4 linked regions of the Homo sapiens genome follow. The protein of the gene in region 2 purifies or fractionates together with the protein of the main gene of each other region. This does not show direct contact. Each region holds a gene or a part of one and is shown on either strand. Other genes may lie near its edges.

Evidence for each region. The genes of interacting proteins can lie anywhere in the genome.
Region 1: the proteins of VTCN1 (region 2) and NCALD purify together in Homo sapiens (affinity purification with mass spectrometry; 2 studies listed by BioGRID and IntAct, with this or other methods). This does not show direct contact.
Region 3: the proteins of VTCN1 (region 2) and NGLY1 purify together in Homo sapiens (affinity purification with mass spectrometry, with the first as the bait; one large-scale study listed by BioGRID). This does not show direct contact.
Region 4: the proteins of VTCN1 (region 2) and EIF2AK3 purify together in Homo sapiens (affinity purification with western blotting, with the first as the bait; one study listed by BioGRID). This does not show direct contact.

The regions. Positions count from the first base shown.
Region 1 is NC_000008.11:101,780,970-101,784,469, forward strand, and holds part of NCALD (neurocalcin-delta), read right to left. Parts: intron 1-3,500. UniProt on the Homo sapiens protein: May be involved in the calcium-dependent regulation of rhodopsin phosphorylation. Binds three calcium ions.
Region 2 is NC_000001.11:117,148,428-117,151,927, reverse strand, and holds part of VTCN1 (V-set domain-containing T-cell activation inhibitor 1 isoform 1 precursor), read left to right. Parts: intron 1-3,500. UniProt on the Homo sapiens protein: Negatively regulates T-cell-mediated immune response by inhibiting T-cell activation, proliferation, cytokine production and development of cytotoxicity.
Region 3 is NC_000003.12:25,718,444-25,721,443, forward strand, and holds the end of NGLY1 (peptide-N(4)-(N-acetyl-beta-glucosaminyl)asparagine amidase), read right to left. Parts: intron 1,749-3,000; coding exon 1,571-1,748; intron 1,193-1,570; coding exon 1,017-1,192; 3' UTR 501-1,016; downstream 1-500. UniProt on the Homo sapiens protein: Specifically deglycosylates the denatured form of N-linked glycoproteins in the cytoplasm and assists their proteasome-mediated degradation. Cleaves the beta-aspartyl-glucosamine (GlcNAc) of the glycan and the amide side chain of Asn, converting Asn to Asp.
Region 4 is NC_000002.12:88,556,241-88,558,852, forward strand, and holds the end of EIF2AK3 (eukaryotic translation initiation factor 2-alpha kinase 3 isoform 1 precursor), read right to left. Parts: intron 1,697-2,612; coding exon 1,496-1,696; 3' UTR 501-1,495; downstream 1-500. UniProt on the Homo sapiens protein: Metabolic-stress sensing protein kinase that phosphorylates the alpha subunit of eukaryotic translation initiation factor 2 (EIF2S1/eIF-2-alpha) in response to various stress, such as unfolded protein response (UPR).

The sequences.
Region 1 (3,500 bases), on a different chromosome or scaffold from region 2:
GTAGGCTGTTTTGACAGTCTGAGGAGAAAGAGAGTTCTATTTCTAAATAGTAACAGATCGACCTTTAAAAATTGGAAGTTGATCAACATTTTTCAAGGTGGGCACAAACAGATCTAATGACAATTTCTTTTGCAAAGTGGAATTTGGACCAAAGATTGCATCTTTAATGGTTAAATAGCTTCTATTTTGTGAAATATATTCTGAATATACCAAAATATATATATATACCCTGAGAGAGAGAATGGTTTGCTTTAACTACCCCTGGCAGTTGGGCTTGTACCAAGGTTGGTACCACGTTGTCCCATTCAACCTGGGAGACTTTCTAGTCCTAGTAATATACTCAGATAGTCTTATGTTAGTCTTCTATTAATATTCATTTTAAATAACTTAAGTATACAGATCTTGTACCAAGAGCTCAGGGCTCACCAAGGGTTCCCTCACCATTCCCTCCTGAATAGCTGGGAGGTGACAAGGAGCACAACATGGGCAATGGCCTTGGGGCAAAGGCCTCTCGACACAAAAACCAATTTACAAACCTTCACAATTGCCAGCAGCAATAGCAAGTGATGTTTTGTAAGTGGAAAACATACCTTTCATTCACCATCAGAGACTGAAATAAATGACTCAACTGGTTTAAAATCTTTATGTGATCAAATAGTTAAAAAACATATCACCGATTCAATTTCTTCTGGTGTTGGACCTTAGGGACAGTACTAATCTGTGTGCTACTAGAGTGAAATTATCATCAATATCAACGCATTACTCTTCACTAGAATGATTAACAGATGGTGTTTTTGTTGGCTACCCAGGGATTTGTTTTCTATTATTCTTTGTATTGTACATATATGTTATATACACTTTTTTGCATGTATAATTTATAATATTTTTCTTAAAGATGGCATGCTCTGGTTAAGAACATTCTGATAGTTGCCAGACACTTATATTGATGATCAGTATTCAAAGATTTCAGGTGTAATGTAATGCAATGCACTCATAACTTACAACTAAAATTTCACTGAACACAACCTAATTTTTCATTGGTGACATGATTCAAAGATTTTTCAGAATAATGTGCAGTGTCTCAGGGGTTTCAGTATATATATATTGTATGTTTTATATATATATAAATATACATATAATATATATTTATATAAATTTTCATTGTATACTCATTATAGTATAGTTTTATAGAAAATGTTTTAAAGGCTTGACTTGTTCATTTGGTTTGGAACTTATATGAGTATGACTTTGATGAGTAATAGGTTATATGTTTAAAACTATGAAGTTACACAGCTTTGCCTACGGATATAACCCAGCTAAAGTTAAAATGGCTACTCACACCTACGGAGGGCAAAAGATAATTCACATTTCTTAAAATTTAAGAAGTTAAAACTTTTCTATGAGAAAAATGGACAAAAATACTTAGCACATATTCAGGGATTTAAATGAGCTGTGTAAAGAAACAGAGTCACTAAAATATTCTCACCCCACTTAACATGTACATCACTTCCCTGCTCCCAGCTTTCCCCAGCTTCCTAGTGTCTATCAGATCAAATCCAGCTTAAGTGGATAAATCCTAGATCCTCCATGGACCCACCATATAGATTATATATTTTTTCCTTTTCCCAACCATGTTCTTGACTCCAGGTGGGGAGGTGTCCTATTTCTGTCACTAGAATGTTCTCATCATGCTTCTCAATGAAGGATTATCCTTTCACTTTTGCTCCTCATGCCAGACGCTCTCTATCCTTTAGGCCCAACTCAAAGCTCACTTCCTCTCCAAAGTCATCTCAATGCCATATATCCTCTGGGGTTAATCTGTTCACTAATCACCTAACAGAGATGTAAAGAGGAGGCACTGTATGTCCTGCATGATGCTGGGCACTGTGGGAAGTTGTAGCCAGTGTGGAAGACGTAGCTCTGGCCCTCAAATGCAGATGCCATCCAGCCTTCCTAACTAGACTGTTACCTTTTCAAAGACTGGCTGGTCCTATATTACTCATGCAGTATCCTACTTAGCTGAAATATCTTGGATGAGATGGGATATATCCCGGTTATTGAAAAGTCTGGGTGATTGCACCACATCTGCCCTGTGTCTATGGTAAGCAAATGAGGAACAGCTGGAGAAACCTTAGCAGTCCTTGGACATGAAAGGAATATTTTCATAGGCACTTAACTCTAGGGCTCACTGTACAGAGTTAACAAATGCTGAATGAATAAATGAATGAGAGTCTTCTTAAGGGAAGAGGAGTAGACTATTAGGATGGGGTGAAGTTTAAGTAAGTGAGAAGAGAGTTGGGGCATTGATTTCTCTACAGCAGAAGGGAAAGGGATGCCTCTTTGAGTAAGGACACAAGGACCACATTTCTGAGGATTTCAAATGCTAGATTTGACCAACACATGGAGCCACAGACCAATGGGACAGCTGCCATTTTGGCAATTTTGTTAAGAGGCATAAGATTTTGTTGAATTAGCTAAATTTTACCTGGCTAAGGAGAATACCCTAGCTTTACTACAAACCAGTAGAGCAGAAAACATTGCCCTAGAAGCATAGGAAATGGGCCAAAATAGTGTCAAAGATACAGCAGTTTCTAACAATAGAAAAGTAGGCAGCAATTTAGACAGAGTAGGTATGGGAGAGGGAGACAAAGTGGACAAGGAGGACTGAGCATGTCCTATGATGGTCTAGGACAGATGATACGAGTACTGCCATCCACACTGCACTCTCCTGCAGGGAGGGTCCCAGTCAGTGGGGGCCAATGAGCGAGATCTTGCTAAGGCATGCAGTCTGGCCTCAGTGTAGCCCAAATCTTTTCCTAGAACCAGCAACAGCATTAACCTGTAGGACATTGTTCCAAATTTCCAAAAGCTCATTTGTAATTTGGTTGGTAACAGAAATATATTTTCCTCCAGAAATTAGGTTAGGTTAGGCCAAATCACAAAAGTCTATTTAATAATCCATATGTACCTGAAGTTTAGCCCTCTACACAGGCATTTCACTCATTTCTAATTACCCAAATGTCCCAGTTACTCTGATTGCCTAAGAAATTACCCCCCCACACCCCAAATCTTACGGGCTTAAAACAGTAACAACTTTTATTTTGTCCATGAAACTGCAACCTGGGGCAGAGCTCAGCAGGGATAGTGCATCTGTGATTCCCTGGCATCAGGAGGGGGAAGGAAGACCTGATGACCGGGCCTGGAGTCATCTGACAGCTTGCTCACTCACATGCCTGCCAGTTGATGCTGGATGTCGGCTGAGACTTTAGCAAGAGATGTTGGCTGAAATACCTACTCTTGGCCTCTCTATGTGGTCTGGGTTTCCTACAATATGGTGACTGGATTCTAAGGGAAAATGTCAAGAAGAAAAAGAATAGCAAGAGAGAAAAAAATTGTATTCTTTTTATGATCTATCCTTGGAAGTCACCTAGCATTATTTCCACTGTACTCTATCAGTTGGACCAATCATAAGCCCATTTAGGTTCAAAGGGAGGGGCAAT
Region 2 (3,500 bases):
CAATGAGATATCACCTAATGCCCATTAGGGTGGCTACTCTAAAAACAAAATAAGGCAAAAACAGAAAATAACATGTTGGTGAGGATGCGGAAAAATTGGAACCCTCATGCACTGTTGGTGGGACTGTAAAATGGTGCAACTTCTATAGAAAATAGTATAAAGTGTCATCAAAACAATTAAAAAAAAGAACTACTGAGATATGGAGCCAGCCGGACTTCGTGGGTCGAGTGGGGACTTGGAGAACTTTTCTGTCTAGCTAGAGGATTGCAAATGCACCAATCAGCACTCTGTCTAGCTAAAGGATTGTAAATGCACCAATCAGCACTCTGTAAAAATGAACCAATCAGCACTCTGTAAAATGGACCAATCAGCGCTCTGTAAAATGGACCAATAGGCAGGAAGTGGGCGGGGCCAAATAAGGGAATAAAAGCTGGCCACTGGAGCCAGCAGCAGCAACCCGGTAGGGCTGCTGTCTGTGATGTGCAGGGTTTGGTGTTTTGCTGTTCACAATAAATCTTGCTGCTGCTCACTCTTTGGGTCCACACTAGCTTTAAGAGCTGTGACTCTCACTGCGAAGGTCTGCAGCTTCATTCCTGAAGTCAGTGAGACCACAAACCCACTGGGAGGAACAAACAACTCCAGATGCACCATATCTGAACATCTGAAGGAACAAACTCCGGACACACCATCTTTAAGAATTGTAACACTCTCCAAAAAAAAAAAAAAAGAACTGTAACACTCAGGTTGGGCATGGTGGCTCACACTTACACTATCATATGATCTAACAGTCCTGCTTCTGGGTATGCCTTCAAAAGAATTCAGAGTCTGAATGAGATATTTGAACACCCATGGTCACAGTAGCACTATTCACCAAAGTCAAGAGATAGAATCAACCCAAAATGTCCATTAGTAGATGAGTAGATAAACAAAATATGGTATACACATACAATAGAATACCATTCAGGCTCAAAAAGGAAGGAAATCCTATCATATGCTATGACATGAATGAACTTTCAGGACATTATCTATGTGAAATAAGCCAGTCACAAAAAGACAAATACTATATGATTTAAACAAAGCATCTAAAGCAGTCAAATGCACAGAAACAGAAAGTAGAATGGTGGTTAGCAGAGGGCAGGGTGGAAGAGTTGAAGGAGAAAGGTTTTTGTTTAATGAGTATAGAGTTTCAGATTTGCAAAATGAAAAAGTTCTAATGATTTGTTTTATAACAACGTGGATATACTTAACACTACTGAACTGTACACTTAAAAATGCTTAAGATGGTAAATTTTGTTGTTTTTACTGCAATTTTTAAAAAGTATCTAACTAAAAAATTACATATGAGAGCGAGAGCTCTTGCACCATCTTGAGGAACAAATTGGCAACTATCCTGGTTAGGATTATTAGTTGCCTGTAACAGAAAACCAATATAAATAAATCTAGTCTGAAAGGGAAGTGTAGGAAGTGTACTAGAATGTTGTGGAACCAAAGACAGGAAGTTCAGTTGACTTCAGGATCAACTGGAACCAGGAACTTAAATCCCATTGAGATTCTTTTTCTCTCATTTCTACTTAATTCTCTCTTTACTCTCTTGTTTTAGTCCATATGGCAAGACGTGATTGCCAAGCATTCCTATATTTAAAAATCTCTTACTCAAGAGAGTGGTGAGACTGAACCTCAATTCATCAGTCTCATTCTACATTCCCAAGAAGGACTTTGACTCCACTTGGGTCAGCTGCCCATACCTAGGCCAATGAGGCAGTATCTGATGAAAGGCCTTCCCAGAAGAGAAGGAGGGACTGAAGTATTGGTCATTTAAAACAATGGGTGCTGACAACAGTATCTCAGTCCAGTTCCCAGTAAAAAGCTCCAAGCTGTGTAAATAATGTCTTCTAGTAGCAAGGGCCACAACTGAACAAGACATAGACATTGAGCACACCTTTTATTCAATTAACAGATCTGTCTTCTTTACATGTTTGTTGGATACATCAAAACAAGTGTTCGAAGTGTCAGGCTAGGATGAAATACAACTTTTGGTAGCTCAAAATTAAGAAAATAGCAGAATTTCTTATTGTTGTAGACAAAGTAGGTGCTCCATGCATGTTTTTAAACAAGTAGGGCCATGGGATTTACATATTGTGTTCTCTGCCTATACTGCTAATTTAGGTCATTCATTTAACAAATATCTATTGTGTGCCAAGTATGTTCAGAGTACTTTTTTAAGCCCCCTGAGATACTGAAATGAATAGCATAAGTATCAAAAGAGAAGTTAATCACAGTGTAGATTTAGTACCTATGGGAAAGAGTTGTTAATTATGACTGAAGTGGATCCATAGATAAGGCAGAGTTCCGGCTGGGTTTTGAAGAAGAAAAAAAATGGTTTGGATAAAATGGGAAGACCTGAAGTCAGGAGCTTACAGTAATGGTCTGGGGGAGAAATTATGAGAGTATTAACTGGAGCAGGGGCAATGGGAAAGAAAAGGGGGAAGAATCAAAAGTTGCATAAACAAAATAATGTACAGTCCTTGGTGATGCAAATGTGAAAGTCAAGAGAAATCACAAGTCAAAGTGGGTTTGATATTTCTACCCAGGATACTTAGGAGGTTGGTGATGCTACCAGAAAAAAAAAAAAAACCCACCCCAAAACATAGGAGCAATATGTGTGGGGAGTAGATAAGGGTTTTAGAGATGTCGAGTTTGAAATGCCCATAGTGTACCCAGGTAGAGATGCCCAGTGCTTAGCACAATAGCCAGCATGTGATAGGTTTTGGGGAGAACACTACACCCTTACTCCATATATTTCCTTTTATGAGAAGGGATCCCCACCAGTGTCATCTTTTTAGCCTCTCTCTTCCTCCCTCTTTCACTCTTCCTGAGAGAACAAGGAATTAATTTATCTGATTGATGAGTATATTAGGAGCAGCTGGACATAAGTAGCTCAGCTCCTCCTTTTTCTTTTTGTTTTTGCTAACTCTCAGGAAGCCCGTGTACATTCTGCTGTGCTCCTGCAGGCCGTCAGTTGTTCAGGGGTAGAATCTGCTCCTGCAGGAGACTTGCACCAGTCTGGTTCTGTCTGACAGTGGGGAGTCTCGGCTGTAGCCCACTTGCCTAACTACAAAGCCTCATTCTCTATTAACATATTTTCAGCACTAAAGGTGATATTTTGATCTTCCAGTTGCCTTATTTTTTTGTCCTTCTCTTTAATTGGTTCAGAGCTAAGCTGGGGAAGAGGCTGTTATTTATTGGACTTCTTTGAACCCCAATAGTAGGTACTCAGAAATATTTACTGAATAATTATGTTTTTAAATGACATATCTAGCAGCAACTGGAAATCTAGATGTGGAACTCAAGACAGAGTTCAAACTAAGGAGGTAGACTTGGAAATGACTAGCATGAAAGTGATATTTATTAGGCTTGAGTGATGTTGGCTTTATTGTCGTTTTTACAGCCAGTACTTATGGAGTGCTTATTATAGGCCAGACACTGTTCTAAGTGCTTTG
Region 3 (3,000 bases), on a different chromosome or scaffold from region 2:
TATTATATATTTTATAATACATGTCACGTTCTATTGAGTGGCACAGGGTGAGACTCTTGAGTGTGTCTTTTTCTTGTATAAAGAGTTGAGAACTCACTTTGCAGAATATCACAAAGGAATCTGGAGGCTTGGGGCTATGTCTTTTTCACCACTGCTTCCTCCACAGTGCTATCACAATGCTTTGTACATAAATGCTTAATAAATGTTCACTAAATTTGAGAGGTTATACAGAATATACACAAAACCTCTTGATACAACATATAGATACTGTATAATATAGTTACATAGTTTCAAAATCAAGAATATTTTATTCAATGAGGTAGATAAAAATATAACTCAAAGGTAAGGCATTTTCAAAATGTCCACGTATTATGGAATTTAAAATGTATCCTAGTTTATGTTGTCAATGTTAAATGTTTTCATAACTCATATCTATTCAAGTATTTTTCAATGTTTAGAAAAAAGATTTTTATTTAGCCAAAATAACCACTAAAAAGATGTAAGGCAAAATACTTCATTTTATTTCTTAAATGCCTGAATATTTATAATCATATAAATTTTCATGCATTATATAATTTATGAGCTACTGTACTTTCACATTAATTAAAAATATTAGGAGACTCTAATTTAACCACTTCTGAAGAAATGAATGGCTGATCAGAAAATGTCAAATTACTATCATAAGCCCAAGATTTTATCATAATCATGAATAGCATTTAATCATGAATATCATTATTTAACTTTTAAAACCATACTTACAGTTTTAGATTAAAATCCCATATTGAGTCAACAAGACTTTACTCCAAATTATAGTCACATATGGAAGAAAGGTTTTAATTCAATATTTTATTATAGTCCACGTATAAAGATAATTTTCATGAGGGTTACATGATGGATAGCTAGCAAAAGAAATATGCTAGCACAGGGTGGTAACTGCCAACTAAGCATGCACTGAACCAACAGACTACTTCAGTAAGTCCTTGATTATTGCCAGCTTTTCTATAATGTTCAGGTTCTCAAAGGTCACTGAATTTTATAATTATCTCCAAACAATTTTCTTCATGGTCATTTAAGCTTTGTCTAAACAGCTGGGTGTGTTGCCAAGCGACATCACCATCTCCTCTGCTTAATTCTGCTTCCAAAATAACTTCAGTGGCACCAGAAAAATCAGCATAGGAGTGAAGACTGTTATCTGTTAGAGGGAAAAAAAAAATTAACATTTTGCTTTTGGTAATTTAAAGAGCACAGATCATTTTGAAATGTATTTTATATAGGCTGATGTATAAGTTAAAATAAACCCTTAAAAATAAATACAAATTATTCTTTATGGAAGAAATGCATCCTTTGAAACAAAGAAATGATTTTTTCCTTGCATTTGTATTTCACAACAGAAAACATCAGCCTTTCTGTTACAATGGGATCACACAGGGTTTATTAAATTTTTTTTTTTTTACTGAAATAGTATTAATAACTCTTAGGTACGAAAAAGAGCTACATCTCAAATAAGTACAATTAGTCTTCAGAGTGGTAAATATATATTTCGTGATTAATTCTCCAGGCAAATGCTTACCGCCTGTCAGTTCTACTTGTGCTGTATCAGATCGCAATTTCCATTCTACTGTTCCAGTCTGAAAAGTTTGACTACTTGTTCTAATAGAAATGCTATCTACTTTTAGGCCAACTGACCCACACTCAAACTTCCAGGAAATATAAGCAAAAGATGATCCTTCCTTTCGGGCCAAATATACCTATAAGGAGTAGGGATGGGGAGAAAGGAACTGTCAGAAAAAATGAAATAGTATAGAAAACAAACTTAGTGAAGAATATTACTGTCACAGGGTAGTATGTACAAGTGGTTATTTAAAAACTAACTTTTCCCTGTTGAAAAGGTTCTTACTGCTAACATTTTTTTTGGCAATTTTTCCCATGGCATCTTTTACCCTAGAAGACAGGTATTATTTGAATGCAGATGTCCCCAAAAAGTGCAATTCTAAAGGACTGCATTCTAACCAAATTTTGGTAAATCATCTTCTTTTATATTAAGAAGTTCAACTCTTTAAAATGAGTTTTATGACTAATCCTGCTGAAAATGAAGAATCCTTTTAAATGCAACTACTCTTTAATTTTTATAAGTCTGGATTTTCATATACGCTTTCCTAGTGTGACATGGTATGCTATAGTCTCTAAATCGAGAAAATACCTGAGCCACTGCTAACTAATGGTTTAAAAGGTGATATCCATGCTCACTTCTCTAAATAGCATGCTCCCTGTTCCTTCATCAACGCCCTTTAGCACATTAAATGTATACTATTTAAGGCATCTAAGCCTACTGGCTGCTTCCAGCTCATCCCCTCTCATACTTTTATCTACACTCCTCAAAACATTGCCATGAAAACTGACATCCACAGCCTTGGTCTTTCACAGGTCACTCTATTCAACCATGCTCAAACTCTTAAGACTCTGACGCTTCAGTCGTTCATCCCTTACGTCTGAATTCCCACAAAATTCTATGTATTTGTTTGAAATCTTGGAAAGAAACCCCTTCCTCACTAATACTGCACTTACTACTACAGTTTGAACTTTACACTTATCTTAATGCAATTGACTACTGTTGTACAATTCCAATTGCTCTGACCATATTTTTATTTTCAAGTGTATTATTTTAGACACAGGGTCTCACTCTGTCACCCAGGCTGGAATGCAGTGGTGCAATCATAGCTCACTGAAGCCTTGAACTCCTGGGTTCAAATGACCCTGTTGTCTCAGCCTCCAACTACCATGCCTGGCTAATTTAAAAAAATTTTTTAGAGGCAGGGTCTCACTATGTTGCCCAGGCTGGTCTTGAACGCCTGCCTCAGTCTCCTGAGTTGCTGAGATTGTAGGTGTGAGCTACCGTGCCTGGCTCTGATCAGATTAATGTTTTAAAATCCCACTCTCTTTATGTTATCTGCCTGGTCTGAAATGTACAGCAAGTACTTGGTTCTTACATTAAGTCTAATC
Region 4 (2,612 bases), on a different chromosome or scaffold from region 2:
CAGCCACAAAGATCTGGGAAGTGTTTTTCCAGCGTACAAGTTGCTCATAACCTTGCGTGGCAGACATTATTTGTTTGTAATATGGAGATGCTATGCATTTTGACCTTTCTAGATTGTGTCTAGCTGGTTCATGCCCCATCAGCCCAGCCTGCCACATGCCTCGATGTGGCACATGTCAGATACACCTCGGTATCAATACAACTAGCATCACCACAGCCCTTTTCTCTGAGAGCTCTCCCTTTAGGGGAAAGTCCTCTATATTCTCAGTCCTTGGCACAGGGTAGGTACTGGGCAAATGTCTGTCAATTATGGATCTTGTGAATTTTGAAAGGGCCTGCCAAGTCTTTGGGAAATGATGAAAAAGATACCTGTCTGAAATGGGTTAGGAAGAAGTTTTTTTGAGGATAGGTTTATGACTCTTCCTAGATCTATGATCCCATTTTATAAATTAGAAAATCTACCATTTTGGGACTAACTCCTCAAAATAAGAGTCAACATACTTAATTTAAAAAAAGTTTTATTAAATCATTTAGACTTGAAAGAAGTCACAAGTTAACACACTTAAGTGTGTTCTGTACACCACCAACCCAAATGGATTGATTTCAGAATTTTTATAAATAAAACATAAACATATTTACAGTGAAAAATAAAAACATGTTAGCAAGTGAGATGATTAAACTGTTACCTATAATCAGTTTGGGGGAAGTACCAACCTACAGGATTACATATAAGACACTTAAGATTTCATTAGGCTTAAAAAGTCCATAGTTGAAGAAGTTAGTTGTAATATATATGATCCATTTCTTACTACGGCTTTTTTCCTCCCAAAACTAGACCTTTCAACCAATTTACATAAAAAGCTTCATTTTCCCTTTATTGGAGGTAAAAGTACAAAAAGCTGTAAACCCACCCTAGAACCATCTAAGGAATAAAGCTATTGAATGCTACAAATAGGACTATAAAACTACGGACATAAACCGTTATACAGTTTGTGCTACTTGTCCTCCAAAATAGTGCAGATTCCTAATTTACCCGCCAGGGACAAAAATGGAGTCAGCTTTTTCTAGAAATCAGTTTCAAAATCATCATATCTCTAGAAAGCATATTTCTAGAACAATACAGTTACCACACAGGGGGACTTTCCTTCTTCTGCATTATAAAAATATATCCATTTTAGTTCTCACTATATATATATATTAGGGATTGCTGCTACCTCCTTAGGCAAATGGTGAGGGCTATAAAGCTTGGCCAGCAGCCAGTTTCAAGAGACTAACAAAGAACAAAGATAGCCCTTTCCTTAAGTATAGCAAAACTCAGGAGTTGGCTCAAATTAGGTTATGCCCCCAAATCCAGCTTAAATTTGATATAAAAAAAGTAGTCCACAAAAAAATTGAGCGAAGAACAAACTTTTCAAGTCTGCAATTTTGGACAGGCATATTCTAAGAAGTAGGCTATTATCTGCATCACCTATTAGGGTTGCTAGCACAACTTAAGGCTAATTGCTTGGCAAAGGGCTATGGGAGTTGTTGGACTGTCTTGAATGTTTTGTTCCCGATGAACTCAAGGAGCGAGACCTCTGTCTGAGCACTGTTTTTCCTGGAAAGTCCAAGTCCTCAAATACAGCATTTTCAATGATGTTTATAGCTTCAGGTCGTTCCATGGGGGATGGAGAGAGCATGTCTTGAACCATCACGTACTGAAAATATAAAAATTGTTTTGTGATAAAACGGCCAGGTTTGATCACTGTACAGTTTTTAAAATCAGTGCTGGCAAAATATTTCTGTACATATTTTAAGCTTTTGAGCCATATTCGAGTTTTCAAGTCTCTGATACAACTACTCAGCTCTGCCGTCAATGCACAAAAGCATCCAGAGACAATTTGTAAATTAATGGGCATGGCTGTGTTCCAATAGAACTTTATTATAAAAATAGGTGGCAGGCTGGATTTGACCTGTGGGCACTAGTTTGCCAACCCTCATTCCAAAAAAACATGGACAATTTTTGGGTAATTTGATTTTCTAACACATTATAAAGGATTATTTAATCACATCCCTGAAACATAAATATGATTTTTAAAAATCATCTTATAATTGCATGTAAATCTACAATTATCTCAATAGAAATTTTAATTAGAAAAAATTATGGCAGAGATCAGCAACCAACACCTTTTCTTGGTTTTTAAAAATCTCTTTGAACGTAACATGTACTCTTATGAGCCACCCTGGGAATAGATTCATCAAGTTTGCAAAATACATGATGACAATTTTTAGTAAAACAGACTTAAGTATATGTAGGTATTAATATATTGTTATAAAGTCCATTTTTTAATGCAACCCTTCATTATAATACTGAAAGATAAATTTTGACTTTTTCCAATTTGAAAATGAACACATACTAACTCACTTCAACTTAATTACTTAAGGAAATTCAAGATTTATCAATATATAAATTTCACAGGTGCTACAGTGTGGAACACTGGACATTAGGCTGAAGGAGCCAGGCCCCAGCTCCAGTGTTTGGTTTTAACAAATTCTGGGCTCTTGGGAGCAGGTCTCTTTCCTCTCTAGACCTTTGGCTTCCTCATCTGTAAAATAGGGGAAACTGAGTCGACT